7 linked regions of the Homo sapiens genome follow. The protein of the gene in region 1 purifies or fractionates together with the protein of each later gene. This does not show direct contact. Each region holds a gene or a part of one and is shown in the gene's direction. Other genes may lie near its edges. The genes, in order: ZNF174, SKAP2, DDX11, EML4, PUS7, ATF7IP and PI4K2B.

Region 1 (4,167 bases):
CTCCCACCTTGGCCTCCCAAAGTGCTGGGATTACAGGTGTGAGCCACTGCACCCGCGAAGGCAGTCTTTTTTAATGAGTTTGTGTTGGTTTTTATCTACTTAAAACACAGATTAAAGCAGATCGTAATTTACATTTTCTCCAGGGGCTGATACACCCTCACCATGTGGTATTAAAATGGATCCAGCATGCACAACAAGATGAATATACTCAGGACTACTGAGCTGTACACTTAAAAATGGTTATGATGGTAAATGTTTTTTAAAAATTAAAGAAATTTTTTTATATTTTAAAAATGGATTTGGGTTCCCTTTTCTCAAGGAACTTGAACTGCCTTCACTTAAATTCTCTTTACATTTCAGTGCTTCTAGAGATAGAGAAATCAAGGGCATTATTATTGTTAGCACTGCTTTCTAGCCAAAAAGAAACTGAGAGCGATGAAGTATCTTGCCTAAAGCATCACACAGCACAGCTCCTAGGCAGCAAGGCCAGGACTAGAACCAGCACCCCTTGCCTTCATTATGTTCATCCTGTGCCTTACCTGGCTGAAGAAGAATTTAATAAAAGCTCTTCTAACTTCATGCAGAAGGCGGAACCTGCACCCTTCTTGACCCCTTTTGACCCCTTACCTCCCACTCATCGTTAAATTTTAAAATGCTGTTCTCTGAAAATTTTACTTCACTCTAGCGATGGCCCAAACACTCGGAAAAAAATGTAGCATGAGGATGGGGAGCCAGGTTGATAGGTTTTTCACTTAGTTAACTATTTATTGAGTACTCAGAACGCACTCGGTGCCAGGGCTAGGCACTGTGGATGAGTAGGGAGTGGGCGAGACAGGGACGAGATGAGCAGGGTCAAGGCCAGGGGGTCCCGGGGCGCCGGCGCTCAGGCTCGGGGTGATCCGCACGGTGGGAGCGGGGCACGGTGATCGCGGCGCGTCTGGGGACGCCCGGCCTGAGGGAGGCTGCCTGTCCCAAGGAGACGCCCATCGGGGCCGGACCCGAACGCCTCGGAGAAGACTCCCAGCGGGGAGGGGCTCCTCGGCCGTCGCAGGGCCCAGCGGCTAATCCCGCCGGCCGCAAGGAAGCGGAGAACTCACCGGACACCAGCACTCGCGACTCCACAAACTCCCTCAGCCTCCGGGCCGGAAGTCAGCGGCGCGATTCGCTCCGCCCATTACGCACGCCCCTGCGCAGGCCCGCAAGCCGAATTGCCGGACTGCAGCTCCCGGGATGCACTGCGACGGTATTGACAGGCGCAGCAACCAATAGACGGTAGAGAATGCCCTTGGCAGGAGGCGGGCCCTGTCAGTAGTTGTCCTCAGCAGCTAGTGGGCGTCTCCGCAGCGAGTGGCATCGGCCCCGCCCCCAGCCCGTGCTCGCCGGTGTCGGGTCCTAAGTCCCTCGGTCTTGGGTTCCCGGAGAGGTGAGTCGGCTGCAGGTGGGTGCGGGGCGCCGGGCTGTTCGGGGTACCGGTGTCGCAGTCGCCAGTCCGAGCTCACACCGGGCGTGGAGTTCAGCTGCGCATCGGGTTGCGGCAGCTTCGCCAGGCCTGGGGCTGGCTGGGCCGCGGGGCCGCCCTGGAGGCCGGAGCCACTGGGCCTGCGGCGCCTCGGCAGCGAGCAGCCGCTTTGCTCGCGTGCAGGAGGCTGTTCGCTACCTCACACCCCCGGCTGGCGCTGTGGCCTCGCTTAGCTCTACCGTTTAGCACCCGGCGACATGCACCCGGTCGGTTTCCGCCAGGATGCGGGAGAGTTGGGGCAAGCTACCTGCGACAGCTTGAACTTTTCCTAGGGATTCCGCTCCACCCGCCGGTTAGAGCGTATTGCTCATTAAATCCGAGACCTGTGTGCTTGCTACTGAAATAAAAGAAGTATTTTTTCCCCAGAGTCCTTTTAGGACGTTATGACTTTTCTCCTTTGCAAGACTGCAAAAAACTGACAAGAAGACAAAACTCTTCCCACTCCCAGGGACCGCGTTGTCTTGAGTTTGGCTAGTAAAGGCTAGCAAGTGAGGCTTTGTCTCTGCATCCCGTTCCCCCTAACATCCTCAGAGAACCTTCGTTTCTAGAATCTTTCTAGTATTCAGAGACTTCTCCAGGGTCATGATCCCAAAGGCTTAACCCGTTTACAAGGAGAGAGTTGTCTCCTGACGCCCAAAATGGCAGCTAAAATGGAGATAACTTTAAGCTCCAACACTGAAGCTTCCTCCAAGCAAGAGAGACACATAATAGCCAAACTAGAAGAGAAACGGGGCCCTCCTCTGCAAAAAAACTGCCCAGATCCTGAGCTCTGCCGCCAGAGCTTCAGACGCTTTTGTTATCAAGAGGTGTCTGGACCCCAAGAGGCTCTCTCCCAGCTCCGACAGCTCTGCCGTCAGTGGTTGCAACCCGAGCTGCACACCAAGGAGCAGATTTTGGAGCTTCTGGTGATGGAGCAGTTCCTGACCATCCTGCCCCCGGAGATCCAGGCTCGGGTCAGGCATCGATGTCCAATGAGCAGCAAGGAGATTGTGACCCTCGTGGAAGATTTTCACAGAGCATCCAAGAAACCAAAGCAGTGGGTAAGGAGGGTCCTCTCCCATCATCCTGGGGATTTCTTTTTCTTTTCTTTTTTTTTTTTTTTCTTTTTTTGAGACGGAATCTTGCTCTTTCGCCCAGGCCCGAGTGCAGTGGCGCTATCTCGGCTCACTGCAAGCTCCGCCTCCCGGGTTCACGCCATTCTCCTGCCTCAGCCTCCCGAGTAGCTGGGACTACAGGCGCCCGCCACCGCGCCCGGCTAATTTTTTGTATTTTTAGTAGAGACAGGGTTTCACCGTGTTAGCCAGGATGGTCTCGATCTCCTGACCTCGTGATCCGCCCGCCTCGGCCTCCCAAAGTGCTGGGACTACAGGTGTGAGCCACCGTGCCCGGCCGATTTCTTTTTCATCTGGGTAATGTTTGGTATCTGGATCTCTCCCTATTTAAGTCTCAGAAGTGGACTGGATGGCTTCAGAAGTTGCTTCCAGCCTCTATCTGGGAACCTATCCTGAGTTATTAACAGGTTTTTAGAAAATCCAACTACTGATACCCAGTGAGGCAACAGAGGACCAAGGTTCTTACCATTCCTTTATGCACCTTGTGTCACCAGAAGTAATTGTAAGGTTCTTAAATCCCTTCTGTCAGCTCTTCCCCCACCCAACTTAGTTTTCCTACTAGCAGAATTCTTAGCAGATAGGGTCACCCTGTTGGGTAGCAGTTGGACTTTGGGGAACTTCATTTCATTGGAAGTTCTAGCTTATTGTCTTTCCAGTGTTTAGCTTATAGTCTTTTTTTTTTTTTTTTTTTTTTTTTTTTTTTTTTTTTGAGATGGAGTCTTGCTGTGTTTCCCAAGCTGGAGTGCAGTGGTGCCATTTCAGCCCACTGCAACCTCTGCACCCCAGGTTCAAGCGATTCTCAGGTCTCAGCCTCCTGAGTAGCTGGGTTTACAGGTGCCTGCCACCACGCCCAGCTAATTTTTGTACTTTTTAGTAGAGAGGGGGTTTCACTATGTTGGCCAGGCTAGTCTCGAACTCCTGACCTCAAGTGATCCTCCCGCCTTGGCCTCTCAAAGTGCTGGGATTACAGGCGTGAGCCACCACACCTGGCCTAGCTTTTTGTCTTTGATTTTTTTTTTTTTTTTTGAGACTGGGTCTCACTGTGTTGCTGAGGCTGGAGGGCAGTGGCACGATCTCAGCTCGCTGCAACCTCCATGTCCAGCTCAAGTGTTCCTCACACCTCAGCCTCTCAAGTAGCTGGGACTGCAGGTACATGCCACCATGCGTGGCTAATTTTTGTACTTTTGTAGAGACAGGGTTTCTCCACATTGCCCAGGCTGGTCTTGAACTCTTCTTGGGCCCAGGCGATCCGCCCGTCTTGACCTCCCAAAGTGCTGGGATTACAGGAGTGAGCCACACAATGCCTGACTAGCTTATTGTCTTTGGATCAGGAAGTTACAGTTCAACTGGCCAGCGTTGCCATTGCTTGCCACTCCCCGCCCCGAAGTCAGACCCCAGTCAGGACCTAGGCAAGAAGCAAACGGCAGGTACTTCGGAAAATAGAACTTGTTAGGGAATGAAGGTGGGGTGGTCCTCTTAGACCCCTACTACTACTGGGATCTCCTTACCAGGAAAGCCTTTGGCAGAACAATGTAT
Region 2 (3,500 bases), on another chromosome or scaffold:
GTTGATCCCATAAGTATGGCAGCCCCATAGCTACTTTACTTTATTCCCTTTAGCTGTGTTGGTTTGTTGTTGTTTGGTTTTTTGTCTCTTGGAAAAGAAGATACAAATTAGTCACACAATGTTAGAGCTCAGAGGAATCTTAGAAATCATATTAATTAACTTTTTCTTTTACAGTAAGGAAATGGCCTTACATTTTCCCCTCTTTATTGCAGATCACAGCTTTCTGGGATTTGAATGGCAGAAACGGTGGTGTGCTCTCAGTAAAACGGTATTCTATTATTATGGAAGTGATAAAGGTAATGTTGGTGTTCAATTATATCAACTACTATTGCAAAAGAATTTTTGGCCATCCCTTCCCCCTCTTTTGAGTACAGAGTAAACTGAAGACAAACTAATAATAACTGAGAATTATAACAATTATAATCTGACTAATTTATGATTCATTTCATTATTTGACAAATGCTCCAAATACCAGAATACCCTCAGAGCTAAAACAATTGTGTTGTATTGAATTAGAAAAGAGAGTAAAATAACTTTAATCTGTGTGGCCTTTCACCTTAGGGAATATTTATTATCCAGCCTACTGTTGTAGAATTTCTGGAAAAGTTAAGAACATAGGGTTGTGAGAGTTTCAATGGCAGAAAATAGATTATTTTTCTTAAATATTTTAAAATAAAATTAGATAAAATTAAATACGAACAGCACCTTTCTGAGCTCCCTTTACAGATTTAAGGAATAACAGCAAACGTGTACATAGAATTTACTATATACTGGGCACCGTTCTAAGCACTTTGTCTAAGTACGTTAGCTATGTTAACTTGTTTAGCTCACAACAACTCTGTAAGTACTATTATTAGCACCATTAATTTGACTTTTAGGAAAACTGAGAACAGAGAGGTTAAGTGACTTGTTCAAGGTCACAGAGTTGGAAAATGGCAGATCTAGGAATTTGTTTTTCCTTTGTTTTTAGAAACAGGGTCTTGTCTCGGTGCCTAGGCTGGAGAGCTGTGACTGTTCACAGGTGTAGTCATCACACCCTGCAGCCTCAAACTCCTGGGCTCAAGTGATCTTCCTGTCTCAGTCTCCCAGGTAGCTGGGATTACAGGTGCACACCGCTGTACCCAGCTCAAATTTGGGATTTTAACCTAGAGAATATGGTTAGAGTCCATGTTCTCAACCACTATTGTCACTACATTAATTTAGAAATAATAGGATACATTTTATAACTTCATTGTTAATTAATAAATCTCTCAGTTGTAGTTCACATAATTTTAAGATTGTTATTTGAACAAATAAAGCCACCAAATAATGAAATTTAAAGATTGTAAGCTTTCTGAGTTTTGTTTTATTCTGGGGAAAACAGGCTAGGAGTTGAATATTATAAAGTAAAGGTTGTATCAAAATAGATAATGTTCATTTCCAGAAAGGACACTTTAAGAAGAAAAAGGCAAAAGTATCACTGAATGTAAGCTTTCCTATGGAATTGTTATCAGTGTTGTTTGGAAATTTATGTTTTATTTGACATTATTTATAGTTTTTAGAGTTTTTTCCCCCATTCTAAAAACATACAGGTAAGATTGTCATATTTCAGATAAGTCTGAAATACTTACATAATGCTGGAAGTTGTTCTTACCTTTTGGCTAATGAGATTAACAAATTAATTAATTTAGTAGCTAGTTTGCATTCCATCACTAATTTACAGTATGTTCAGATGTAGTAATGGCATCAGTGAAGTGTAAACTGTAAACAGCTATAAACAAGCATCTTTCTTCTGCTAAGGGTCAGTAGTGAAGTAGGTCAGAAAATTTAGAGTCCAAGTTCAGTTACGATTATCACAGATCATAGAAATATAGTTTTGTATGATATTGTGAATTTAGATCGAGATACTACCTTCCACAAAATATCCTCTTTTTCACCAGACCAGGGGAGGGAGGTTTCAGATCCTTGTGACTTTGATTCAATTAGGCTTCTCATTTCTAATTTCTTTAAGAATCAATGAATACTAATGTCAGTGTTTCCTCCATTTCTAGTCCTGACTGGCATATAACAATGGTTAGGTCAAAGATTAGCAAGAGTTTCCCCAAAACCCAAAGCGTGTTAATATTTACTTCAAACACTAATATATTCAATGAAAACATTTTAGTTAGAGTTATTTAGATATTAGTTACATTCCTTTTTTTTTTTTTCTTTTTAGAGATGCGGGGGCCTCACTCTGTCACCCAAGCTGGAGTGCAGTGGTGCCATCATAGCTTACTGCAATCTTGAATTCCTGAGTTCATTTTTATTCTTATTTGATGAGACCTAATGGTAGTAACATTGTTTGTAATTTGCATTTTAACTACTTTGTGATCCATTTAGCCCTTTCTGTCATTTCTGTTACTGGAAGGGGGTCTTGATCCAGACCCCAGGAGAGGGTTCTTGGATCTCATGCAAGAAAGAATTTGAGGCCAATCCGTAGAGGGAAGTGAAAGCAAGTTTATTAAGAAAGTAAAGAAACAAAAGAATCACTACTCCATAGGCAAAGCAGAGCATAGGCTGCTCAGCTGCTTACACTTATTGTTACTTCTTGATTATATGCTAAACAGGCAGTGGATTATTCATGAGTTTTCCTGAACTGGGGTTGGCAATTCTCAGAACTGAGGGTTTCTCCCCCTTTTTAAGCCATATAGGGTAACTTCCTGATGTTGCCATGGCATTTGTAAACTATCATGGCACTGGTAGGAGTGTCTTTTAGCATGCTAATGCGTTATAATTAGCATATAATGAGCAGTGAGGAAAACCAAAGGTCATTTTCATCACCATCTTGATTTTGGTGGGTTTTGGCCAGTTGCTTTCCTGCATCCTTTTATCAGCAAGGTCTTTGTGATCTGTACCTTGTGCCAACCTCCTATCTCATCATGTGACTAAGAATGCCTAACCTCCTGGGAATGCAGCCCCCATAGGTCAAAGCCTTATTTTACTCAGCCCCTATTCAAGACGGAGTTGCTCTGGTTTAAAAGCCTCTGACACTTCCACTTTAAAAAAATTACCATTTTAGCATTCCTTTTTCATGTTGATGTCTGAAGATGTGGCTTGTGTTTCCTTAAATTTTTCCCTTTTACTTTGCAGCCTCCTGTTTCCAGTGAAATTTTAGATTTGTTTCTTGTGGTTCTTTTTTCTATTGGCGGTTTCATTCGAAATTTTTAGCCAGTTCCTCTCTTTTAAGGGACTCCAAAAAAAGATCTGTCTTTAGACAGTTTTTAATTACTTGTTTGGCATGATCCCGATTTCCTTCCTTTATATCTTTTTCTTACCAGGAAAATATGTCAAATAATTTTTTTCTTTTGTGAAATTAGATATGATTTTTTATAGCCTTGTTTACTGTATGTGTGAACCATTTACCTAATGGGAAGAACTCATATCTAGCTATATGAGAACTATAATCCTCCAACTAAGTAGGATTTAGATAAATGGATTATAGAGGCACAGAAGGAGTTGACACCACTTACTAGGTTAAACTG
Region 3 (3,500 bases), on another chromosome or scaffold:
ACCTCCCACCGATCTGTTTTTCCAGGCAGCCTCAGTCAGAGCACCCTGAAGTTTTTGCTCCTGAATCCAGCTGTGCACTTTGCCCAAGTGGTGAAGGAATGCCGGGCAGTGGTCATTGCGGGGGGTACCATGCAGCCGGTAAGGACACCTTTCCCAGCCCCTCGTGCCCCAGGTGTTGGGATGAGATGGGGGCTTGGGAGAGATGCATTATCAGTCCTGTTCTCTCCTGGGGCCCCAAGCCAGAAAGGGTCAGCTCGAGCAGGCCCAGTGGTGTCCGCTGGGTGACACTGCTATTCTCTCACTGCTGTGCCTTTTAGGCTGCAGGAGCAGTGGAGACTCCTCTGCTGCTCCATTCTGTAGCCCCAGGATCACATGTCTCCCAGAGAAAGCTGTTCTGTGGTTTCAAACTCAAGGAAAAAAATCATGATTCCACTTTTAAAAGGTTCATTTTGATGTATATGAATATAATAGTCTTTGTAGGCGTAATTTTTACTTATGTGCATAGCTGTTTTAAAAACAAAAGTACGGCTCCCTCCATGTGCTGTCACTGGAACTTGCTCTTTTCACTCAGCAGCCAGAGGGTCATAAACCCTGTCTCCTTGTCAGCAAGCATGCACGTATTTCAGTATCCCAGCTGTGCTGGATTCCAGTTACACAGATATATAGCATTTCATGTAGCTGCTTCTCTCTTGTTAGGTGTGCAAGCTATTTGCAGTTTTCTGTTTTGAGCATGACTGTGATAAATATAACCGCATTTCTGCACAGTGGTGACTCCTACCTAGCGAAGGGCCTCCTGGACAAAAAGCTGCTGGGAATCCTGAAGCAGTGCTTCCCAGCCCCAGCTGCCTTAGCTTTTGATTTTTATATTTTTGTATGGATAGATTCATAGTTTTATTCATTCGGCATATTAAAAGTTGTTTACAGTAATTATTGTTTCTGACGTTCACATTGTGAGAGCCCCTTCCTGCTAGCTCAGGTCCTCCCCGTGGCCCGGTCAGTCTCGCCTCCAGCACAGCAGAATGTCATGGGATCACCATGGGTGTCCTTTCCCCACACTGGATTGATTCATTTCTCCAAGCTGCTCTGGTTTCTTGTAATGGGGAATGACATTTAGAAGTCAAGCTGTGGGTGCTAGGGTGTTTGTCGTGCTCCTGGGGCGTTTTGGTAGACAGATCTAGGAAATGTTTTCAGAATGAATCCATACTGGTATTTCTTTCTTTCTTTCTTTTTTTTTTTTTTTTTTTTTGAGACACAGTCTCGCTCTGTCTCCCAGGCTGGAGCGCAGTGACCTGATCACGGCTCTCTGCAACCTCTGCCTCCGGGGTTCAAGCGATTCTCATGCCTCAACCTCCTGAGTAGCTGTGATTACAGGCATGTGCCACCACACCCAGCTAATTTTTGTATTTTAGTAGAGATGGGGTTTTACCATGTTGGCCAGGCTGGTCTTGAAATCAGGTGATCCGCCAGCCTTGGCATCCCAAAGAGCTGGGATTACAGGCATGAGCCACCACGCCTGGCCCATATTGGTGTTTCTAAGTAAAAATCAAAGGATTTGTTTACTTGACCTTTTATTGTACCTCTTTTTCTCTTAAGCCTGAACATGTGTGCTACATTAACATACTTATCTGCTCTATCCTATAATATACTTAAAAGTTTTGAAATCATAGTACCAATATTACTTCTAACAATAGATCTGATTGAAATTGCCTTTCCTCTTTGCCTTTAGAGTGTAACCCACTAAGGATGCCTGGTCACTAGGCTCTAAAGTCACGTGGAACCAGGCTTCTCTCCGTGTGCTTCTGTTGTCAGTTTCATAGATAACTAGGCTGTTTTTGTTTCATTTTCTTTTCAATTTTAGAATTTGCTTTTTTCTTTTCTGACTTGTAGTTTTTAAATATGTAAATATTTGTATGGCTCAAAAGTCAAAGCAATATAAAAAGATCTATTCAGGAAAGCCTCACTCTCATCCCTTTCCAGCCCATTCCCCACCCCCATAGGGAATCCGTTTTACTAGCTTATCCTTTCAGTCTTTCTTTTTCCCCTAAATAAGCAAAAACGTGTCTTCATTTTTCCCTTTCCTGTTTTATTTACACAGAAGGCATCTTAGTCAGTTGTCTGACCATCGCTCCTCTAGTGGGCTGCGTGGTTCTCTGTTGGACAGATGTAGGGAGCTTATCCAACCAGTACCCTCTGGATAGGCAGGCGCATGATTACAGGGAAAGGTCCGGGGGCACATGCTGTTTGGTATTTGTGGGCTGTATCTTCTCACTGGACTCCTAAATATGGGATTCCTGGGTTAAAAAGTATAAATATGTTTAATTTGTTAACTACTGTGAAATTTCATGAGAATTGTACCATTCTGTATCCCACCAGTACTGTCTAGGAATGCCTGTTTCTCCAGAGTGGTTACTTTTGGATTTTTGCCAGTCTAACAGGTGAAAGCCTGGAGATTCTTATTCAGTAGTTTGGGCTGGGGCCTGGCCATGTGTATTTTTGAAAATTTTCGCTGGTGATTTTGCTGCATGGCCAGGGTTGATAATGACTGTGCCAGATTTGCTGGATTTCCTTTGCTGTTCCTGCACATAGTTTAAACGAGACTGCCAGCACTGGGTATCAGTCACCATTTTTCTTTTTGTTAGTTTGCCATCAGCCTTTTCTTTGACCTCTTCTTTCAGTTTGTGTGTACTTGCTGTCTCTTAGCCCAGACTTCTCGCTTCCTTTCTGCTGGGCCTCTGAGGGGTCATGGGGCCGTGACGCTGTGGCCTTGGTCTACAGGTGTCTGACTTCCGGCAGCAGCTGCTGGCCTGTGCCGGGGTGGAAGCTGAGCGCGTGGTGGAGTTTTCCTGTGGTGAGAAGCTGTGCCCAGGGTGGGGCAGGCTAGAGGTCAGGTTCTGGCCCCCGTTTTCTGTGGGTAATACCTCATACTGCGACCAGGCACAGGGGCGGAGGAGACCCCGGGGTGGGAGCCTCACCCTTCGTGCGCTCGCCCAGGCTCTCCTGCTTTGCTCCCTGCTGCCTGCTGCCCAGTGTGACTGGTGATGGTGGGCGGGTGAGCGCTGTCAGTCGCTGTTCCTGTGCTGGATGATGGGGCAGGGAAATGCCCTCTCTGCAGTGTCTTGCAGCACACCTGCATCTCCAGTTTTCGGCCCCTCCCTGGCTCTTACCAGGTCACGTGATCCCTCCAGACAACATCCTGCCCCTCGTCATCTGCAGCGGGATCTCCAACCAGCCGCTGGAATTCACGTTCCAGAAAAGAGAGCTGCCTCAGATGGTCAGTCCCAGCCAGCTCGCCGCACCACAGCCTGGCCTCAGGCAGCAAAGGGTTTTCTGGGGCAGGGGCGCTCTGGCCCACCCTGAGTGTTTTCAGTGTTGGGGAAATTGCACAGGGACACCCGCTTAGAGCCACACAGAATGAGCGGCGTCGATCTAGATGCTTATGGAGGAAGGTCTGAGCTTCCCCGCCCCTCACGCCTTAGGCTGCGAAATATGTATTCATAAAA
Region 4 (3,500 bases), on another chromosome or scaffold:
CCAAGTAGCTGGGGCTACAGGCGCCCACCACCACACCCAGCTAATTTTTTGTATTTGTTAGTAGAGACGGGATTTCACCATGTTAGGCAGGATGGTCTTGATCTCCTAACCTCGTGATCCACCCACCTCGGCCTCCCAGAGTGCTGGGATTACAGGCGTGAGCCACTGTGCCTGGCCAATTTTTTTTTTTTTTAAAGAGACAGAGTCTCACTTTGTTGCCCAGGCTGGTCTTGAACTCCTGGGCTCAAGTAATCCTCCTGCCTTGGCCTCGCAAAGTACTGGGATTACAGGTGTGAGCCACCACACCCGGGCTCTGTGATTTGTTTGTTTTTTGAGATGGAGTCTCGCACTGTCATCCAGGCTGGAGTGCAATGGTGCAATCTCCGCTCACTGCAAACTCCGCCTCCCTGGCTCAAGTGATTCTCCTGCCTCAGCCTCCCGAGTAGCTGGGATTACAGGCACATGCCACTGCGCCAAGCTAATTTTTGTATTTTTAGTAGAAACGGGGTTTCACCATGTTGCCTGGGCTGGTCTTGAATTCCTGACCTCAGGTGATACTTGCCTCGCCCTCCCAAAGTGCTTGGATTACAGGCGTGAGCCAGTGCGCCCAGCCGCCTCTGTGATTTTTTAAATTGTGTCACTCACACTAAATTTAACAGCAATTTTTTTGATAACTCATTTTTTTTGTAGTCTTTCTAGAACATTAAACTTAGTTTTCATAGAAATTGCAATTCTCTTTGTATTTAATTAACTTACATAATTAAAATAACAACTGGCATAAACAGACTTGGGGAAAACTTAAACTCTTGGTAAGTTTAAAACTCAATTGAGTGGAGTAGAAGTATACAGAAAAAAAACAGGAATTGGAGAATAACCTATTAAACATGAATATTTAGTGTTCTTTTGGCATCAGTCGGTATGCTTTACACAGATAGTCCTCTGATTTGGGTAACTTGAGGTCAGTTAAGAGACCTTCATTTGTCCCCCAAAATCTGCCAAGATGGCAAAGTTTATTAGAGACCATTTCTGTCTAAAGGGGCAATCTTCATGGGGTGTATCGCCTTAGAATTTTTATAAATTCTTTACTGAAGATGTTAATAGCTTCTGGAATTTTCAAAGAAATATTGTCCTTATTGAATGAAAACAGTGCAAATTGTATTAGCTGTATGACTTAGGGTTTTGAATTATATAATAATCACTTTTCTATCGTTTGATTTTTTTTCATTTGTTTAAATGTGTATTGTTCCATGTTATACTTTATTTTACAGTGGTACAGAAAAAAAGAAAGAAAAACCACAAGGACAGAGAGAAAAAAAAGAGGAATCTCATTCTAATGATCAAAGTCCACAAATTCGAGCATCACCTTCTCCCCAGCCCTCTTCACAACCTCTCCAAATACACAGACAAACTCCAGAAAGCAAGAATGCTACTCCCACCAAAAGGTTTTAACTGTCCCCAAGTACAGAGCTAGGGAATGGTTGTAATGATACCTAAATTCTGTGACTTGGGAAAAAGTTAGCTATCCAAGGATTCTGAGAGAAAAAGCTGGTGGCTTTATTTTTCCCTTCTTCATTGCTTATAATTTATGCTTTATAGCCCATTGGGGAATAAAGAATTAAGGTCACAATTTCTCAGTTAAAACTGGAAAAAAAAAAAAAAAAAACTAAGTTATAAACAATCTGATGAAAAGAAGGCAGGAATAACCTAGTCGAAAACCAAACAATATTTTCTTAACCACATTTTTGAATACTTTTAAAATATGTATGTAACTATGCATAAATTTATAGCCATGGATAGAAAATGGCCATATGTAATTGTCCTCACTGTATTTTGGCATCATTACAACCTTCAACCTGCAAGGGCCCATCTCAAGTGGCTCTTCACTGTGGCTGCATCTCAGTTTCAGTTTTGGGTCTTGGGAGGATAAGTTCTTGCTTGAGTAGAGAAATGAATCCATTTCACCTGGTCTTTTCTATGCTAAAGGCTTGCTTGAGGGCTTCTGTGTCCGTAATAATTAATATTTTAAAGTTATGAGAAGGGGAAAAGGGAGAAATATTCTAACAATGTGTGTGAGCCTAAATTGAGAATCTAAACCTGCATGCTGGGAGTACAGTGCTACAGCTGCCTCCTAATCAAATATTGAGACCAATCTAATTAAATTTGCCTGTTTAGAAATGCTTATTCAAGCCTTGTGATTAGGAATAGTCATATTTTATCATCGTACTTCTGCTTGGAAATCTTAGGAAACTATTAAACCATTTCCAGAACTGGCTAGAATTTTAATAAAATAAATGACAACCATTCCTAAAAGATTTAAATTTTTATTTGATCAATTTAATATTTTGCCTCAAATCGCTAATGGAAATTGGGAAAACCAAAATACCCTTCACTTGATCGATGCATGTTTACCACTTACAAAATGCTTTGTCTGTGTGTCTCATGCAGATTCTTACCCAATCTAAATGGTTTGTAGTTTATCTGCCTGGTCTCCTGTGGAGTTTTTCTTGGATATAGCTTATTAACGTTACATAACTTTGGATTGTGTGTGGTTTAAGGTGGCTTTTTATAATCAGTCTCTTTAAGGTTCTGATTTCACTTGATATCTTCTTTGTCCCAGCATCTTTTTTTCAGCTTCTTGAGGTCTCCTGGAAATGTGCTTGCCCTCCTAAATTGCTCTTTGGATATACTGTTGCAAGAAGTATTGGAGACTGGATGAGTTTGAGGATAGTTAGCAATGCAATGAAAAAATCATTTGTAAAGAAACAAATTTCACTTATAAGTATAGGGAATCAGGATTGCCAATAACCACATTCTTATATAAAGTCTTGTTTATTTCTGATCATTGGTAAAATTGTCCCTAAAGATATAAACAAGAGTTTATACCTTGTTATATTTAGAAATTGTCATTTGTACCATATGTAATGTAATTACCTGAGGACATAATTGCACAAAAAATGAAAATGGCAGCCTTATAAAATTCAATGGCTATGAAAAAATACAGGTTTTTTTGTAACTACAAATTATAAGAAACATTACTCAGATGTAAGGAAATAATTTTTTTCTGTTAACAAAAGTGTTTTTTAAAAAAAATCAGGTAATATTTGTTCTAGTGAATCTTCTGAGTGATACAGAAAATTATAATACAGATTTGGGAATTGCCTTGTTTAACTCCTTCACTCATCCAGGCAGTCTTTCAACTAATCCTTCTCTTTTCTGGATTAGCTTTAAGGAAATGTTAATTGCTGCTTTTGTGTTCTGTTTAAATTGTCAGTTACATGTCTTTGATACTCAGAATTTTTCTCTAAGAAATTAATGTTCCTTCTAGCATAAAACGACCATCACCAGCTGAAAAGTCACATAATTCTTGGGAAAATTCAGATGATAGCCGTAATAAATTGTCGAAAATACCTTCAACACCCAAATTAATACCAAAAGTTACCAAAACTGCAGACAAGTAAGTATTGCACTTTCTTCATTATATCTGAAAAGTAATAATTATT
Region 5 (3,500 bases), on another chromosome or scaffold:
GCCTCCCAAGAGCTGGGACTATAGGCGCCTGCCACCCACGCCTAACTAATATTTAGTAGAGATGAGGTTTCACCATGTTGGCCAGGCTGGTCTTGAACTCCTGACCTCAAGTGATCTGCCTGCCTTAACCTCCCTCAAAACGCTGGGATTACAGGTGTGAGCCACCGCGCCCGGCCTGAAACCAGCTTTTATATAGGTGATTGTTACTTTCTACTCTTTCCTAACAGGTTTTCTTAAATGTTTTCTTGGAGCCTTAAAGATGGAGATGACAGAAATGACTGGTGTGTCGCTGAAACGTGGGGCACTGGTTGTCGAAGATAATGACAGTGGAGTCCCAGTTGAAGAGACAAAAAAACAGAAGCTGTCGGAATGCAGTCTAACCAAAGGTCAAGATGGGCTACAGAATGACTTTCTGTCCATCAGTGAAGACGTGCCTCGGCCTCCTGACACTGTCAGTACTGGGAAAGGTGGAAAGAATTCTGAGGCTCAGTTGGAAGATGAGGAAGAAGAGGAGGAAGATGGACTTTCAGAGGAGTGCGAGGAGGAGGAATCAGAGAGTTTTGCAGACATGATGAAGCATGGACTCACTGAGGCTGACGTAGGCATCACCAAGTTTGTGAGTTCTCATCAAGGGTTCTCGGGAATCTTAAAAGAAAGGTACATTTAGTTTATGAATAAAGTTATTTTGATTGTATTAGGTTTCTTCTTTAGAAAGAAATTAGCTTTATATTCTTCCACTTAGCTTTCCATCTCCAAGGCTTGTTTATACTACTGATCAAAAGGAATAGGATGAAGGAAACCTGCCTGAATAAATAGCCTTGGATTTTTAAATTTTAATTAATTAATTTTTTCCCTTTTTTTGAGAGAGGGTCTCACTCTGTCACCCAGGCTGGCATGCAGTGGCATGATCATGCCTCAAATAAATTCATTCACCAGGCACAGTGGCTTACGCCTGTTATCCCAGCACTTTGGGAGGCCGAGGCTGGCGGATCACTTGAGGTCAGGAGTTTGAGACCAGCCTGGCCAACATGGTGAAAGCACATCTATACTAAAAATACAAAAATTAGCTGGGCGTGGTGATGGGCACCTGTAATCCCAGCTACTCGGGAGGCTGAGGCAGGAGAATAGCTTGAACCTGGGAGGTGGAGGTTGCAGTGAGCCGAGATTGCACCACTGCATTCCAGCCTGGGTGACAGAGCAAGACTCTGTCTCAAAAAAATAAGTAAATGAATAAATTCATTTAAATGGTTTCAGATTTTCTCCTGAGTTTGTTTTATAATCTTAAACTCTTTTTTCATTTGAATGTGCCACAACTATGTTAGAAGAAGGTAGTCTTTGGAGCCAGGTGGATCCCAGTGTGAAGTTCGCTACTTAGTAGTTACTTAGCCTCTCTGAACCTCAGCATCCTTATTTAAAAAATGGATCAGGCCAGACACGGTGGCTAACGCCTGTGATCCCAGCACTTTGGGAGGCCAAGGCGGGCAGATCACTTGAGGTCAGGAGTTTGAGACCAGCCTGGGCAACATGGCGAAACCCTGTCTCTACTAATAATACAAAAATTAGCCTGGCGTAGTGGCACGCGCCTGTAATCCCAGCTACTCGGTAGGCTGAGGCAGGAGAATCACTTGAACCCAGGAGGCGGAGGTTGCAGTGAGCCAAGATCAAGCCACTGCACTCCAGCCTGGGCAACAGAGCAAGACTCTGTCTCAAAAAAAATAATAGTAATAAAATAAAATTTTTAAATGGATCATATTACCACATTGGGGTTGTTGAGGATTTTGAATAATGCATGTAAAATATTTAACATAAAGGTAAGCTTCAGGCTAGTTCATGGTAGACTTACTGGGTTCTGATTCAATTAACCATATAGCATATTTTGTGATTTAATTTAGTGTGGGCTGCCTGAATCGTCATAGGGTAATGTTAATAAGCTTTTGTTTTTGCATTTCTCTGGAAGAATATTCTAGAAGCTAAGAGGGTCTTTTCTTTAAGTTCTCATATAAAACTTGAGCCAAGGTATGGCTCAGCATTCATTAAGAAACCAGAAAAGACCGGATGTGGTGATTCACGCCTGTAATCCCAGCACTTTGGGAGGCCAAGATGGGCAGATCACTTGAGGTCAGGAGTTCAAGATCAGCCTGGCCAAAATGGTGCAACCCCGTCTCTACTAAAAATACAAAAATTAGCTGGGCGTGGTGGCACGTGCCTGTAATCCCAGCTACTCGGGAGGCTGAGGCGGGAGAATCACTTGGACCCAGGAGGCGGAGGTTGCAGTGAGTGGAGATCGAGCCACTGCACTCCAGCCTAGGCAACAGAGCAAGGCTCCATCTCAAAAAAAAAAAAGAAAAAAAAAATTAACTCCATGTGATTTTGCACTGAAGATTTTTTAAAATTCCTTGTTTTGCATAATAGTAAGGCTTGCTGTTGATCAACTTTATCTTAAAATTAATAGAAAACAGGATGTTAATTATCTGAAAGTTCATGTTTTCTTTCATCAGATACTCCGACTTCGTTGTTCATGAAATAGGAAAAGATGGACGGATCAGCCATTTGAATGACTTGTCCATTCCAGTGGATGAGGAGGTAGAAGTAGCTCTTTAGCAAATGTCACCTTCTGTATAAAAATAGCATTTCCTAGAGATTTAGAAATATAGAGCTTTATTAAACTTGAATTCTATGTATGATTCATTGTGAGTTCTCATGGTTATTTTAAAGGACCCTTCAGAAGACATATTTACAGTTTTGACAGCTGAAGAAAAGCAGCGATTGGAAGAGCTCCAGCTGTTCAAAAATAAGGAAACCAGTGTTGCCATTGAGGTAACTAATGCAAAAATATATGAAAAATTATTTAGGGTTTTAGTTGCTTTTTGGGTGGATGTTAAGTGTTTATGGAAAAAATTACAATGGTTAACAAAGGGTGACTTTTTGCTCTATTGGATCTAAAGGATATTACACTAAAAAATTTTTTTACTGGGGCAGATAACTAGTATCCCAGATAAACTATAGCCCCCCCCAAAGTTACATTTTTGTTTAAAAACATTTTTATTTGGGTACAGTGTTACATGCTATTCCAAAGTCCTAGCTACTCCGAAGGCTGAAGCCAGAGGTTTACTTGAGCCCAGGAATTGGAGACTAGCCTGGACAACATAGTGAGACATCATCTCTGAAAAAAAAATTTAGGGACCACAAATGAACAGCGACATATGTTGTTTAGAATCCCAGAGTACCAATTATACCACAATGTCCGTTGTAACAGGACCACCATTTGCTGTCTGTCAGGTATGTGACCCAGGTCAGATTCTGGCTTCAGCAGCTTCTTGGCCTCAGTTGGGACTCTGGGAAGGGGAGGAAATGGGGAAAGGAAGTAGGGGAGCATTTATTTGCTCATCGTGGGTCAATTCTGCTATTGAAGAAAAGGAGAGCTCAGCTACTAAGTAGAATAGTAAATTTTGTTGTTAAAGCTTTTGTTCGCCGGGCACGGTGGCTCACACCTGTAATCC
Region 6 (3,500 bases), on another chromosome or scaffold:
AATAGCATAAAAGATGTAAATCTTATCCATTTATGTGTGTGGTATATTTAATGCGTGTTACGTGGATTTAGGGTTTTATGTAAACTGTGTTCTAGATTACTTATTTCAAACAAAGAACCACACTTAAGTATTGCAGATACAGTTTTTGTTTAACTATGTTTTTCTGACCTTATTGTCTGTCTCCTGTTGCTGGGCAGGAATCAGAATGCTGGCTGCTGATTGGCTGAGTTTGTGAGCAGCTCTTGAACAGCCATTTAAATTCTTGAGCTTTTTGAGCAGGCAGATTGTAGGCTAAGACATAACAGCTTCCCTTTGTTGTTTCATTGCTATGATCTCTTGCTAGAAAGAAGTGGGTGGAGGGGGATGAAGCAGAGAAGAGAGTAATGTTTTCATTTAAAGAAGAAGCTCGTTGGGCTTTCCTTAAAAATATTTTAAAAATAATTTACCAAAAATTTGAAAAAAAAATTTCCAAGCCAGAGAGACTTATTTGCAGGTAACATACCCTTCTCTGGTTATTTAAATATAAATTTCTATAGAAAAAGGTTTTATTAGTGATATTATTTTCCCAGAGTTCTTGAATATACAGAGACTTAAAAAACATTATTTTGACTCTCATCCTCATGAAAAAAATACTTTCAGGAGAAACTAGTTCATCATGTTTTGCAGTTACTTTTAGACATGGCAGACATCTTCTGCCGTAAAATACCAATGCTTTTTTCTGTGAAAATGAATTACAGTCATGTGAAAGCTTTCTGATTTGAGTTGCCACCTAAAATACTAACATTTATTTTATAGAATAGTTTTATGAATGGCATCTTAGTTCTAGGCGACAGTACTAAAATGATCCTTGGAAGTGTTTTGCACTGGTATTACAGCCATGGAAACTTGTTTGCAGGTAACACACCCTTCTCTAATGTGTATCTTTCTCAAATATGCTTCGCTAATGCAAAATACATTTCTAAAAGCAGACTGCTGATTGGTTTGTACAGATATGGCTGAACTAGTTTGAACTAATTGTTCGTGTTACTTCCTTATTGCTTTGTCTGTTTTTTATTATATTTAGAACCCATAAGATCTGGTAAATGGCTGTAGTGTGCTCCCTTGTGGGTATGGATGGTAGTTATTCTATAATTCTTTTTAGAGTGCTTTATTATTACTGAAGTTAATGACAATTTTATTGATAAAATCAACTTTTCTTGAATTATATATTTTTATTAAATATTATTTGGTGGTGGCAATTTAATATTAACTGTGAGGTTTACATGTTGGATTTTCTAATTTATATAAAAAATACCAAAGAGGAATTTGTCTTAGACTCTTTAGTTTATTCCTAAAAACATTATCCTGAATATTTAGTTTATTCCTAAAAACGTTATCCTGAATATATAGATGGTGATGGTTATACCATTTATTGAGTTCTTACTACATTCCAAGTGCTTAATGTATAGAATCTCATTTAGTTCTCATGGCAACCTTTGTGACAGGTGTTGGTATTAGTCCCTTTTTAAGGTAACCAAAACTAAGAAATTGATGTTAGGTAATTTGCCCAGTCTCACACAGTAGGTTTCCTGGGAGAGTTGGAATTCAAATCTGTGAATCTGTCTACAGTCTACAGAGTTCATGTTCTTAATTGGGTTATTAAAAGTGATGAATTTTTTTAAAGGAATGCTTACTTTTAATGTAAGAGTTCATGTTCTTAATTGGGTTATTAAAAGTTATGAATTTTTTAAAAGGAATACTTTTAATGCAATTGGTAATAACTACCAGCTGTCCATCTAATATCTGAGAAATGCGGATATTATGAGGCTAAAGTTCAAAAGAATGGCCTTTCAGTATTTTGAAATACTTAAAGGGTAACTATACTACTTATATTATAAACTTAATTATTTTGTAGTTTTGGAATTAGTAAGGAAAAGTGACAGCAAAATACAATGCATTGTATCTGTATCTTTTGCAGAAAATTTTGCAGTTAGCAAAACTTTGTAATGATGGGAAGGGAAAAACCTTGAAGGTGTGAAATTTTAGTCTGTAATTAAAAACCCTTAACATAATGTTTTGTATTATATTATACAAATTTTGTATAATTTTGTATTAAGGTTTTGTATTATTATATATACATTTTGTATTAAGGTTTCTGTTTAAATGAAGAGTAATTTTTCTAAATAGTTGATTTAGTTATATAATTTAAATAAAATGGCTAGAATAAGAAATATGTTCTAAGTAATTGGCTTAAAGTGAGAGAATGAATACAGAATGTATCACAGTCTAGAAATTCTCTGACAAAGTGCTAGAATCTCAAGCTGAATTGGCTTCCAGCAAGTAGGCTAGGCTTATTATTTTATGCGCTTCAGCCAAAGACCAGCAGGAACACCTTTGTAATTGAAAAAGTTAGGTTTACTATTTGCTGCAGGGAGGAAATAATGTTCACTATGGGGAAACTGTAAGGCACATCAATCAGTAAGAGGATGTTAGAAAAAACCTAGTATAGGATTTGAGTATAGTATAGGTTGGGTTATTTTGGGGAGAGATTAAGGAAGTAGATCCTTATCGTGGATTGGGTGACATCAGAAAGTGGGGGCACTTCTATTCTTGGGTATCTCAATAAATTTTATCTATATAGGGAGGACAGACTATTACAAGATAAAGCTGTAATTGATAAAGAAGTTGGCCTGGTGTGGTGGCTCACACCTGTAATCCCAGCACTTTGGGAGGCCGAGGCAGGTGGATCACGAGGTCAGAAGATCAAGACCATCCTGGCTAACACGGTAAAACCTCATCTCTACTAAAAATACAAAAAATTAGCCGGGCGTGGTGGCGGGCGCCTGTGGTCCCAGCTACTCGGAAGGCTGAGGTAGGAGAATGGCATGCACCCAGGAGGTGGAGCTTGCGGTGAGCCGAGATCACGCCACTGCACTCCAGCCTGGGCGACAGAGCGAGACTCCGTCTCAAAAAGAAAAAAAAAATAAAGAAATAGCCATCACTCATTTAGTGAGGGGGGATGTTTGGAATTTTGTGGGTTGCACAGTGACCTTGTCTGACTTGAATGTTCTCTGAGTTGGTTTTATGTCCAACCAGAGAACAGCATGGCTTAACTGTAAGCATCAGATCCATTAACAACATTGAGCCCTAACTGTGAGTATCAGTTAAGTTTCCAGGCATCAGGGGCTGCTTTTCTTTCTTTCTCAGGCCAAAGCAAATGTATTCTACCATATCATTCCTACTGGTGATGGTAATGGTAAGTGACTATCCAATGTGAAAACAGTATTCCTGCCTCCTGTACATCTTAGTCCTTAAAGCAATTTTGTTTTATTCTACTATTGATTGATGACATTGTTTTTCTTCAGAACCACATCCTTGTGCTCTTTTGTTTGCCTTTATTGCACTGGCCAGATGTTAACAAGGAAATGGTTACAGGAAACATCCTTGTTTTCTTCTGATCCTATTTCAATATCAGACATGATATCTCTAGTTTTCTTGGTAGATAACCTTTATCAGATTTG
Region 7 (3,500 bases), on another chromosome or scaffold:
GGGGTACTGATAGGGTCTGATTTCCTGGGGCAATGGTAATGTTGGGACTTAGAAAGACTAAGGTGCAGGTGCCAGTCCAGTTAGTGGGGAGGCAGATATTGGTCGATGTTCCACATAACAAGAATATGCCTTGGCTGGGTAGACAGAAATTTACCCTGGCTTTTAAAGGAATAGGGTATGCTGTTTTTCTTTACTACTTCCATCTCTCTTTCTTTCTCTTTGATTTCTTTGTCTCTTCCTCTCTTTCTGACTCTCTGACTTTGTGTCTGTCCCTCTTTCTTTCTGACTCCTTCTCTTTGTCACTTTCTCTTTGACTCTCTGTTTCTTCCTCTCTCTGTCTCCTTCTCTTTGTCTCTCTGTTTCTGTCTCTCTGTCTCTTCCTCTCTGTCTCTTTCTTTGACTTCCTGTCTCTTTCCTTCCTACTGGTCTTTCCCTGCCTCTGCCAGCCACTTATGCTGCTGTTCTCCCCTCTTCTTCCCCTTTTTGATGGCTTTGGCAGTGTAAGACTGCCACCCCCTTGGGTTTTTTGCACTGCATGCAATAACTCTATAATTTCCTTGTGGTATTTAGTGGGGGTTCCCCCGGAGGTTAGGAACTCCCTTTCTTTCCACATTGCAGCATGGGCATGTAGGATTAGATAAGCATACATGCTATCTGTATACACATTTATTCTTTTTCCCTTTCCCAGTTCTAAGGCTCTGGTAAGTGCCACTAGTTCTGCTAACTGGACACTGGTCCCTGGGGGAAGAGGCTTACTTTCAAGTATGGTTACATCACTAACTATGGTGTAACCTGCCCTTCGTATCCCATTCTCCACAAATGAACTTCCATCGGTATATAGGTTAAGGTCAGGATTAGTTAAGGGGACTTCTAAGAGATCATCTTGGGTGGCATAAATCTGGACTATAATTTGTTGGCAGTCATGCTCGATTGGTTCCCCATCCTCTGGGAGAAAAGTGGCAGGGTTGAGGGCCATGCATGTGCGTATTTGAAGCACTGGTCCCTCAAGGAGTAGCACCTGGTATCTAAGTAGGCGGTTGTCTGATAGCCATAAACTTCCTTTGGCACCTAGTATGCCATTTACATCATGAGTAGTCCAGACAGTGAGATCCTTTCCTTGTATGATTTTGATAGTTTCTGACACCAAGACGGCCACTGCTGCAACTACACTTAAACAGTGAGGCCAGCCTTTTGCTACTACATCAGTTTCCTTACTTAGGTATGCCACTGGTTGTGGGGTTGTCCCAGGAGTCTGAGTAAGGACTCCAAGAGCTATCTCGGCTCCCTCTGTGACGTATAAAGAGAAGTTTTGTCCTGTGGGAAGGCTTAAAGCTGGAGCTTGTACTAGGGCCTGCTTTAAGGTTTTGAAGGCTGTTTCTGCCTCTGGTTCCCATTCTACTAGATGAGTATTTGCCCTCTGGGTTTCCTTGTTTAGAGTATAGAGGGGCCTGGCTATCTCGCTGTATCCAGGGATGCATAGTCAGCAAAAGCCGGTAATTCCAAGGAACCCACTTAACTGTTTTAATGTCTTAGGGTGAGGATAAGCCAGTATAGGCTGTATTCGTTCCTTGCTGAGGGCCCTGGTCCCTCTGGCTAAGATTAGGCCTAGATATTTGACCTGCTGTAGGCAAAGCTGGGCCTTCGACCTAGACACCTTGTACCCTTGATTAGCTAGAAAGTTCAAGAGATCTAGAGTAGCCTGCTGGCATGAGGCTTCCAAACTGGCAGCCAAAAGTAAATCATCCACATATTGAAGGACCAGAGTGCCTGGACTTGAGAAGTGGCCTAGACCTTGGGCCAGTGCCTGACTAAACAGATGAGGGCTATCCCTAAACCCCTGGGGCAAGACCTTCCACGTAAGTTGGGACTTGTGGTCTGTGGGATCCTCAAAGGCAAAGAGGAACTGGGAGTCAGAGTGCAGGGGAATACAGAAGAAGGCATACTTGAGGTCCAGAACCGTGAACCATTCTGCTTCCTCCGGTATTTGAGAGAGCAGGGTATTGGGGTTGGGTACCACTGGATATAGAGGAATTACTGCCTCATTGATGAGTCTAAGATCTTGCACTAGTCTCCACTGACCATTCAGTTTTTGTACTCCCAGAATTGGGGTGTTGCAGGGACTGCTGCATTTCCTTACTAAGCCTTGAGCTTTCAAATGTTTAACAATATTCTGTAATCCTTTATGAGTTTTAGGCCTTACCAGATATTGCCTTTGGTAAGGAAAAGTGGTGGGATCTTTTAACCTGATTTGGACTGGCTGGGCATTTTTTGCCCTTCGAAAGTGTCCTTCCAATGCCCAGACTTCAGGGTTGATTCCCTCCTCAAGTAGGGGACAACAAATGGGTAACTTGTTCCCTATATTCATGCAGATAACAGCTCCAGCCTTGGCTAATATATCCCTCCCTAATAAGGGTGTGGGACTTTCAGGCATAACAAGAAATGCATGTGAAAAGAGCAAAGTCTCCCAATTACAACTGAGGAGGTGGGAGAAATACCTGGTTACAGGCTGTCCCAGGATTCCTCAGATGGTAGTGGACCTTGAGGACAGTCGTCCAGGACAGGAGATTAACACTGAGAAGGCCGCGCCCGTGTCCAGGATGAAGTCAATTTCCTGGCCCTCAATAGTTAAACATACCCAGGGCTCAGTGAGGGTGATGACATGAGCTGGCGCTTGCCCCGGGCACCCTCAGTCCTGTTGTTGGATCATCTGGTTGGGGGCTTCTGACCCAGGGAACCTTCGTCCTCTGGGGCAGTGCACCTTCCAGTGATTGCTTCGGCATAGTGGACATGGATGAGGGGGCAGCTTGTTTCTCATTGGACAATCTTTTTTAAAGCATCCTAGTAAACCACACTGATAACAAGCCCTACCGGGTGATTGGCCTGCTCCATTTTCTGTCCTCTCTGAACCACCAAGGTTTGTTTGTCTGAGGGCCATGACTAAGGCTGCGGCCTTTCTCTGATCTTGCTTTTCCTTTTGGGCCCGTTCCTTTTGGTCCCTATTATAGAACACCGAGGTTGCCAGGTTTAATAATGCCTCTAGATTTTGTTCAGGGCCCAGGCCTTGCTTTTGGAGCTTTCTCCTGATATCTGTGGCTGATTGGGTAATAATTATCTTTTAGAATCAATTGACCCTCGAGTGATTCAGGTGACTGGGGAGTATATTTTCTTAAGGCCTCTCGTAGCCGCTCGAGGAAGGCAGAAGGATTTTCTTCCTTTCCCTGAGTTATGGTGGACATCATTGAATAATTCATGGGCTTTTTTCTAATTCTCAGTCTTTCTAGAACACAGGTCGACAGATGTTTACGACTCCAGTCCCCATGATCTGGTCAAGGTCCCAGTGGGGATCCATACTGGGGATGGCTTGCTGACTGGTAGGGAATTTGTCCCTTTCTTCGGCTGTCATTCTATCATTTACTTGACTAAGACACCAGGTATCTCCAAACTCTTGGGCTGCATCTAAAGTCACATTCTTCTCATTAAAGGCCAGGATTTGATCTAAG

The links.
Region 2: the proteins of ZNF174 (region 1) and SKAP2 purify together in Homo sapiens (affinity purification with mass spectrometry; one large-scale study listed by BioGRID and IntAct). This does not show direct contact.
Region 3: the proteins of ZNF174 (region 1) and DDX11 purify together in Homo sapiens (affinity purification with mass spectrometry; one large-scale study listed by BioGRID and IntAct). This does not show direct contact.
Region 4: the proteins of ZNF174 (region 1) and EML4 purify together in Homo sapiens (affinity purification with mass spectrometry; one large-scale study listed by BioGRID and IntAct). This does not show direct contact.
Region 5: the proteins of ZNF174 (region 1) and PUS7 purify together in Homo sapiens (affinity purification with mass spectrometry; one large-scale study listed by BioGRID and IntAct). This does not show direct contact.
Region 6: the proteins of ZNF174 (region 1) and ATF7IP purify together in Homo sapiens (affinity purification with mass spectrometry; one large-scale study listed by BioGRID and IntAct). This does not show direct contact.
Region 7: the proteins of ZNF174 (region 1) and PI4K2B purify together in Homo sapiens (affinity purification with mass spectrometry; one large-scale study listed by BioGRID and IntAct). This does not show direct contact.

The regions. Positions count from the first base shown.
Region 1 is NC_000016.10:3,399,848-3,404,014, forward strand, and holds the start of ZNF174 (zinc finger protein 174), read left to right. Parts: upstream 1-1,367; 5' UTR 1,368-2,157; coding exon 2,158-2,559; intron 2,560-4,167. UniProt on the Homo sapiens protein: Transcriptional repressor.
Region 2 is NC_000007.14:26,735,591-26,739,090, reverse strand, and holds part of SKAP2 (src kinase-associated phosphoprotein 2), read left to right. Parts: intron 1-212; coding exon 213-296; intron 297-3,500. UniProt on the Homo sapiens protein: May be involved in B-cell and macrophage adhesion processes. In B-cells, may act by coupling the B-cell receptor (BCR) to integrin activation. May play a role in src signaling pathway.
Region 3 is NC_000012.12:31,097,860-31,101,359, forward strand, and holds part of DDX11 (ATP-dependent DNA helicase DDX11), read left to right. Parts: intron 1-25; coding exon 26-138; intron 139-317; coding exon of another isoform or gene 318-442; intron 443-2,700; coding exon of another isoform or gene 2,701-2,736; exon of another isoform or gene 2,737-2,775; coding exon 2,776-2,848; intron 2,849-3,112; coding exon of another isoform or gene 3,113-3,167; coding exon 3,168-3,271; intron 3,272-3,500. UniProt on the Homo sapiens protein: DNA-dependent ATPase and ATP-dependent DNA helicase that participates in various functions in genomic stability, including DNA replication, DNA repair and heterochromatin organization as well as in ribosomal RNA synthesis.
Region 4 is NC_000002.12:42,259,853-42,263,352, forward strand, and holds part of EML4 (echinoderm microtubule-associated protein-like 4), read left to right. Parts: intron 1-1,268; coding exon 1,269-1,442; intron 1,443-3,325; coding exon 3,326-3,454; intron 3,455-3,500. UniProt on the Homo sapiens protein: Essential for the formation and stability of microtubules (MTs). Required for the organization of the mitotic spindle and for the proper attachment of kinetochores to MTs. Promotes the recruitment of NUDC to the mitotic spindle for mitotic progression.
Region 5 is NC_000007.14:105,505,272-105,508,771, reverse strand, and holds part of PUS7 (pseudouridylate synthase 7 homolog), read left to right. Parts: intron 1-227; 5' UTR 228-259; coding exon 260-657; intron 658-2,498; coding exon 2,499-2,583; intron 2,584-2,715; coding exon 2,716-2,817; intron 2,818-3,500. UniProt on the Homo sapiens protein: Pseudouridylate synthase that catalyzes pseudouridylation of RNAs.
Region 6 is NC_000012.12:14,417,682-14,421,181, forward strand, and holds part of ATF7IP (activating transcription factor 7-interacting protein 1), read left to right. Parts: intron 1-286; exon of another isoform or gene 287-895; intron 896-1,532; exon of another isoform or gene 1,533-1,680; intron 1,681-3,500. UniProt on the Homo sapiens protein: Recruiter that couples transcriptional factors to general transcription apparatus and thereby modulates transcription regulation and chromatin formation. Can both act as an activator or a repressor depending on the context.
Region 7 is NC_000004.12:25,240,533-25,244,032, forward strand, and holds part of PI4K2B (phosphatidylinositol 4-kinase type 2-beta), read left to right. Parts: intron 1-3,500. UniProt on the Homo sapiens protein: Together with PI4K2A and the type III PI4Ks (PIK4CA and PIK4CB) it contributes to the overall PI4-kinase activity of the cell. This contribution may be especially significant in plasma membrane, endosomal and Golgi compartments.